Homo sapiens: one gene and its partner. The protein of the gene in region 1 purifies or fractionates together with the protein of each later gene. This does not show direct contact. Each region holds a gene or a part of one and is shown on either strand. Other genes may lie near its edges.

Region 1 (4,250 bases):
TTCCACATTTCACACGGGCCTGGCAAAGAATAAAACATCTTCCTCAACAAAGCCGGACAGATTGCTGGTCCTCTGGATGCTTGTCCTTACACACATACATCCCCTCTGAAGGTCTGCCTCCCATTGCTCTTTTTCTGACCTAAGTTTGATTTTTCCTTTTTCCTTTTTGGTCTAATTTAACTGGGGGACATCTTGCATCTAAACTTTGATGAAAAAGAAAAAATCCTCCTTTTACTGTGATAACAAAAAGGGGTGAAAAGGGAAAGATGACACATGTATTTTTATGTATTCAATAAAAATCCTTTCCCAACTCAGGTGCCTGGGTGATGAAGGGCCTCATTATGAGTGAAATAGACAACTTATAAAGAATAAAATAAATTTAAATGTGGTCTTTGACGGTGTCTGCAGATAGGAATATTGTTATTTGGGGGATGAACGCTCGTTTTGCCGAGGAGGATCTGGCTGAGTTGTCGGAGGGATGGGCCAGAAACGCTAGTAAATTATACATGGTGCAGAATCCACTGTCAGGTAGCTGCAGTCGATGACTGAATATCCCGTGCGAGCCATGCTGCCATGCGCAAAAAGACACTGAAGGCCATCACATCCTGACTGAAAAGGAAAGTCGCACTGCCCCCTTGCAGTTTTAGCGCATAAGAAACAAAACCAGGATGCGGAAGAAAATTAAAATGCAGCTTTGCCCTTCTCCGTGGTCCTTCAAAGGCCAAATCATAAGAGGTCGTTTTGAAGCACCAGGGAACGACAGGCCTTCAAGGGACTTCTTATCTAGGATCAGGCCACGGGTGACGTTTGGGTCCCCACGCCTGCGGTTCCTGGCGGATCTACAAGGCCTGAGACCCAGAAGACTCATGGGCGCTCCCGCCTCTTCCGCCCTAAAGAGCAAGCCGAGGGAAGACTTGGCCTGGGACCTCAAAGCGTGGGACGGTTTCCAAAACCTTGAGGAATTCTCTCTCCAAGCCTGTTCTGCGAGTTCCCAGGCTCCCTCCCCAGCCATGCCAGCCTCCACTCACCACTGACTGCGTCTTTGAAGTGGGTTTTCTCCGAGGAGTCGTAGACAAACTGCACTTTGCTCAGCCTCCAAGTCGCCTCAGGTCCCTTGGACATGTTGTGGCTTTCCTGTTGAGCCGGGGAGGTGCGCTTCAATCGTCCCCGCAGCGTCTGGGTTCTTAAACCTAGGGGCCGCCACTTCCCACACCCACGCGGAGCCTGCGGCCCCTCTGCCCGCTGGGCTCGGAGTTACCTTTACAAAGAGCATTTTGAGTGCATATGCGCGATCCACCCAGAACACTTGCAGCTCCGACTGGCTGTGGCCACAGCGGCCCTTCACCTCAGCTCCCCGGGTCAATGCGATATCGGCCTGTTCTGTGATCAGCTGGGAACACAGACGCCCCGCGCCCCCTCAGCTCGCCCGGCCCCGGGGCGGGGGCTGTAAAGGGCGGCGCGTCCAAACTCTGGGTTGCACGCTTGGGCGCTCCTTTGCGCGCGCGCATCCCAGGTTCCGGGAACATGCGGTTAGATGCTCTACGTGCAGCCCCGATAGGGAAGCGGAGAGAAGGGGGTTTACTTTCAAAGCAGGCAGGGGAACAGAAGGCATTACAAGCTGGAATCCCCATGCAGCATTCGGGAGCAGCCTGCCGGGGTGTGGGAAAGAAGGCGGGCAACCCAGGTCTTCGAAGAGCCTTGAGGAAGGGTGCCCTTCGCCCTGGAGCCCTAGGAGCAAGCTGAGGGGGGGGAAAGATTCCTTACATCTACGTAGTTGCTGGCCCACACATCATAAGGTACAATAAATTTGGCTGCAAACTCTGCCATGAGACACGTCGTCCCATTTTCCCGCACCACAAATATATCTTTTTCAGGGTTAGTGGAAAGGCCTGAGAGATTTTCCACTTCTTGTTCTGCCATGATTTGAGCCATTGTATCTGCGGAACAAACAAAACAATTCCATCAGTTCAGGGCTCAGCCCACGCGTCTCGGGCGCTAGGGTGGGGAGACAGTGCTCTGCAGGCTTTGGAGTGACAAAGTTCTCTGCCAGCAGCTGTGCGCTCTACGAGCCGTTTCTCTAACCCGGGTCTAACAAGCCTCATTCCTTCGCTGTTAATTTATAATGAAAATACAGTTAAAAAAATTAAAAATCCTGACTTTGTTTGTAATATAGCTGGCTGTTTTCTACATCTTGGGATTTTAAAGTAAATATTTCTTGCCAATGCTCTGACCTCACGAAGCTGGCCTGTCTAGGCTCTGTCTGGAATATGCCACAGAGGTGTATGGCTCTCAGGGGAATTCCCTGCCACCGGCGAGGAAGGCCCTCCCTCCTCCCCTAAAAGAAAAAAAGAAAAAACACCGCAAAACATTAAGGGCCATATTTTTTATCTCAAGCTAATTGACTTTACTTTGCCGGCTCTGTTCTCTGCAAAGAGTGCCCGTCCTCTCTCCCAGTCGCCAAATCGCTACTCACGGAACAACATCAGGAGAACTCGAAGTCTGTCGATGCTGGGGACCCCTCTTCCTTGGAGATCCATACTCGCAGTGCCCCGAATGAGGCCGGCTGTGCTGCTGCAGAGGCCGCCAGAGAGGGAATCCCTCAAAGTCGCCGCTGGAGTGGGCCGGGGTGAGCGAGAGGCGGGGGACAGAGAAGGGGGAGGGAGGGAGCGCGTATTCTGTGAGCGCCTAGCTAGGACTCGGTGTCGAGCGCGGCACCGACAGCTGCTGGCAGAGCAAATCGGCTCACTGCGGAGGAAAGGACCGCACGGCGGTCCACGGCTGCGAGTGCTGAAAGCAATCCGATTGTGTGGCAGGAGTGGCTGTGGCTTGGCTTGTGCGGAGGGCCAATGAGATCTGGGGGGACTAAACTTCTCCCTGGGTCTGTTTCCTGTTCTGCAACTGCATCCGCAAAGATGAGTCTGTTCTGAGAAACTTAATACCACCCTCAGCCTTATTAAATCTCCTTACCAGGTACAGTTATTAAGTGGTGTAGATACCTTATCACTGGAGTACTGTCTTCTGAAAACGCATCTGGTTCCCGAAAGAAAACGGTGGAGCAAAAATTGTTGCTGATTCGGGGGAGGAGGGCTATGCAGGAATAGAGAAGGGAAAATGCTATGGCAACAGTTTCCTGAATTTGGAGACATCCCCTTCTCTCCCCTGCTCTCAATGAGCTCATGGGTTTAAAGTTAAATTGACGCCTCCTCGAACGAGGCCATCAGACAATGCAGTAGCTCCATGTGGGCTTATTTTCCTGTGAATTTTGCTCCCGGGTGCATGAGGACTCTGAACTCTGGGGTCACCTACCCTCCCGCATTATACTGTGACCACTCTGCCAAAAAGGGATGCAAGCAAATCAGAAGTTTTTGAGAGTTATCTAGTGTCTCCTAGGACAGAAATTTTAGAATTATGCCCTAAGTAATGTCACATAGTTATGTAAGAAAAACACACACTGATATTACTCTAAAGCCTGTAGTGGAACAGAAGAACAAATACTACTGGGCTAATTCCTGTATTTACATATTTGGTAGCTTGCTTATTTTTTATTTTTGCTCTGTAAATCAGAATACAGCTTTCAAAAATACACATGCAGTCCTCATCAATTGTAGTGATGTCCAAATATTTTATTCCTTAGAAGATATTTCATAATGCAAATAAATGTTGCATCAGTAATATAATGTTATAAAACAATGTCATATTAAAGGGAAAATTGCAAAGTATTTCACCTGCATTATCTAATTTGATTCTCCCCAATCTTAGAGGGTAGGCAAGGAAAGATATGAGTTACTGTGGTTTTACATACCCCAAAACTGAGGCTCAAATAAATTAAATGACCTTCCCAAATGTCACATGGTCAGTTAGAATTAAAATACAAAAATCACATGCTTTAACTCTGTGAGATTATCTTCATTTCTCCTTATATAATATTTTTACTCCATATTTTGACTTCCATAAAAATCTATATTCAATATCAAATAATAATCTGAAATCTGAAATCTCTATCATTAATTCACATTCTTCAAATTTATAGAATGCTGTTTTAAGTATAATCACATTCTGACATATCTGCCACAAAGTATCTATATAATGTTTTTGGCTTTCAAACATATTCCTATATCAATCATTAGATCACTAGCAATTCAAAGTATAAAGTAATATTAAAATTGACATTATATTTTGACATCTTGACTTTTATGTTTGTAGTTCAGTATTTCATCCAAACATTTCTCAAGAACTTTACAAAGATGATT
Region 2 (3,500 bases), on another chromosome or scaffold:
TACTGATACATACAGCACAGCATAGATGAATTTCCCAAATATGTGAGCAAAGAGAGATGCAAAAAAGTTCACAATGTATAATTCTATGCTTATAAAGTTCATAAACAGGCAAAAACTAATCTATGGTGACGGAAGTCAGAATCATGGTTACTTCTGGGGAGTGCGGGATGACTACACAGGGAAGCGTGAGCGAGGCTTCTGGGGGCATTGCTAATGTTCTATAACATCATCTGAGTGCTGGTGTATGGGTGTATTCACTTTGAAAAAAGTCAAACTAAACACAATCTATGCATTTTTCGGTACGAACTTATGCTTCAATTTTAAAAAGTTTCTAAAAAAATTTAGTTGTGATCAGATCAACAAGGCAGAAGCTGGAAAGGAATCTGAATTGAGAGACTTTCATTTTTGTTTGTTTTCTTTTCAAAAGATGAGAGAAATGTGCATGCTTCGTTGAAATTGAAAGCTACAAGTATGTAACAAGAGCTGAAGGGGATGGATCCATATTTTAGGAAGAAGTGATGGCAGCAGCAGCTTGTCTGGAGTGGCCCCCAGCAAAGTTGCTGGCCGCAGTGTGGGGGGACTGGCGGGGACTGTGCACTCCATGGAGCTAGCAGGAGCTGGGAAGAGGTGGGAGCCCCACCCCCTTCCGAGTTGGCGGGGCAGGAGCCCTGCTCTGGGCATAGCTGCAGCTGCCCAGCTGTGGCTGTGGACCCAGGCATCCCTGCACTTTCGGGGACCCAGAAAGCCCCCATACCCCTACAGGCTTGGAAGTACCTGCTCCTGACACCTGCTCTGATTTTGGAGAAAAGTTGTGACTGAATCCAGGCACTGTTGTAACCTAGCTGGGTGTGCACACATGCTCAGGGCAGCACTGACACCAGCCCCCGGCTGCCTCAGCCCACTCTGGACTTTGGACATCAACAAGCACAGAAGGGAGGCTGACAGTGGGGCTGAGGGCAGCTCAGCATGGGCCTGCAGGCACTGGTTGGCATGAACAGCCTGGGTGCCATAAATGACATGATTGATGGTGGCAGGAGGCAGATAGGCTCCTGGGCAGAAGTGGGCAGGTCCCCGGTGAAGCCCCACCTTCAAGCCAGGGACAGCCTGAAGCATGGAGGCCAGGCCATCAGCTCTGTGGACCAGAGTGAGAACTTAGGGTGCTTTATCCAGGTCTGCCTATGGCCCAATCAGTGCACACTTTCTCCTCTCTGAAGCCCATAAAAACCCCAGACTCAGCCCCACTTAGGTAGATGACAGGACAACCTGACTACAGATAGGAGCTATCTACTTCAGGTCTCCTCTCTACTGGGGGCTGCACAGACGATTGGGATAACCTGCCTGCAGATAGGAGCTACCCACTCTGGGGCTCCTCTCCACTGAGAGCTATACTTGTCAGGACAACCTGCCTGCAGAAAGGAGCTATCCACTTTGGGTCTCCTGAGAGTTGTACTATCACTCAATAAAGCACCTCTTCACCTTGCTCACCCTCCAGTTGTCTGCATACCTCATTCTTCCTGGATGTAGGACAAGAACTCAGGACCTGCTGAATGGCAGAACTGAAGGAGCTGAAACACAAACAGGGCTGAAACATGGCCCTGCCACTTGCCATGTTGCAGGTGACGAGAAGAGAAGAGCTGTGGCCCTTCCAGGAGCCCAGATCTAGGGGCTCCCCAAGCTAGGGCTGTGACACCCTCTTTGGAGCTCTGAGGTTTCTGGCATCTCCAAGCTTCTGGGTACCACCACATTCCTCTCATCCAGATGCAGGTGCCCACAGCAGAAGCTGCTTGCAGTGCATCTGACCCAGCCACAGGCTTTCACAGAGCCGACACCTGTGCCGATGCCTGGAGCTGCCCACCCTGCCACAGCAGCCAGCGTGTCTGGCTGTGCTCAGTGGCTGGATCCCATGCTCACTCACTCACACACCCCTCACCACTCCATGCCTGGCTCGCCCTTGGGAGTCATGAGATCAGAGCCAGGAGCATGAGCTAAGTGCAACCTGCCAGGCTGAGTAAGCGGAATAAGCCCAGCGGGCCTGAGTAAAATTCAGGCAAAGGTGCTACTGGCCATAGAGGTTTCCAGCTGGCAAAACAACACCCCTAAGGATCCTGTGACAGAAGTATTGGCTTTAACAAGCATGACTCTTCCATCTTTGGAGGGGAAAGAAAAAAAGATGGGTAGGTATGTAGATTTGTTGGTGAGAAGCTGAAAGAGCTGCCGTCTGATGACTCCTGTTTTAACTGCTGGATGGAAAGTAGTCATCTGCTAAGAGGCTAAGAGTAAAGATGATTTTGTTGTTGTTGTTAGGGAGCACAAGAGAGAAAGCCATAAAGAGGACGGAAGTTTGAAGTGAATGGAAATATTTCTTGTAGAAAATGGAAAGAAAGCAAACTAAAAAAAACAAAGAAGGAAAGTCTGGCAATGTTGAGAGCCCAGTTGAATTTAATAGACATGACTTTACAAAAGCACTACTCTGCTATGTAATTTTTCTCTTGCAATGTTCAGTGCCTCCAGTTTTAGAGTGCAGTTGTTTGCAGATCTAAGAGATGCTTAGTAGACAGTGGATAACTATGAGTTTGGAGCACAGCAGAAAGATAAAAATAATGGGTAGAAAGATTCAGAATGCATATGACACATAAATAAATTCCAAACTATATTGATTGAAAAACATTTTATTCCTTTAGCCAAAATTTTAAAAATTTTATCATTTACTGTAACTTACCATGTTAAAAATTGTGACGTCCAATACACTACCCTCCAGAAAATTGGCATGATTCCATCAGGAATGTAACTCCATGGCTTGAAACAAGGATGCTGGCTGTTGAATAAAAAGTTAAAGCCAACTAATCATAAATGACTACTTAAATGAATTATACAATTAATTTGCATGTGGCCAAGTTAATTTACATTCAGATTTTAAATTACTGACTCTAATAATCAATAACCCATAAAATTTCAAAGAAATTTTAAAATTCAAAGCTGACTGCCAAACTAAAAAAACACACAAAAGCAACAAAATAGATTGTTCTGAAAATGTCATTTAAGTTTTCAACTTTCAGTGTATTTTTAGTCATTGGGTAAAAAGAAAACTTAATGTTCAACTAATAGACTAAAAGTGCAACAATCATTAAAAGCAAATGTATTATGAAATAAAATTTCTAATGATTACCTTTAAAATACACAATCCATTTATAGGTTGGGTTTTTTTTTTTTCAGGTTATAGGGGTTGGGAGGGGAAAACATTAGGTAATTAATTCCTGAAAATTGTAATGCTAATTAAATCACTCACTATAACATAGCTTCTATGGAGATGCATGCTAGCAATTATACATAATTCTGTTTAAATTTTTGAAGACATGATGAGTCTCTGATCATAAATTCTGCCATGGAGCCATATTCCTAAGCTAGAAGGATATCCCAAGAACTTGCAACAATCTGTAGCTGCTGCTGATCTTTATCCAGTTTTTTTAATAGTGCTTCAAATGGAAGTAACACCTGCATTT

The links.
Region 2: the proteins of LAMP5 (region 1) and LMBRD2 purify together in Homo sapiens (affinity purification with mass spectrometry; one large-scale study listed by BioGRID and IntAct). This does not show direct contact.

The regions. Positions count from the first base shown.
Region 1 is NC_000020.11:9,513,140-9,517,389, reverse strand, and holds the start of LAMP5 (lysosome-associated membrane glycoprotein 5 isoform 1 precursor), read right to left. Parts: upstream 2,801-4,250; 5' UTR 2,538-2,800; coding exon 2,474-2,537; exon of another isoform or gene 2,392-2,473; intron 1,938-2,391; coding exon 1,765-1,937; intron 1,391-1,764; coding exon 1,259-1,390; intron 1,135-1,258; coding exon 1,029-1,134; intron 1-1,028. UniProt on the Homo sapiens protein: Plays a role in short-term synaptic plasticity in a subset of GABAergic neurons in the brain.
Region 2 is NC_000005.10:36,138,388-36,141,887, forward strand, and holds part of LMBRD2 (G-protein coupled receptor-associated protein LMBRD2), read right to left. Parts: intron 2,816-3,500; coding exon 2,720-2,815; intron 1-2,719. UniProt on the Homo sapiens protein: Recruited to ligand-activated beta-2 adrenergic receptor/ADRB2, it negatively regulates the adrenergic receptor signaling pathway. May also regulate other G-protein coupled receptors including type-1 angiotensin II receptor/AGTR1.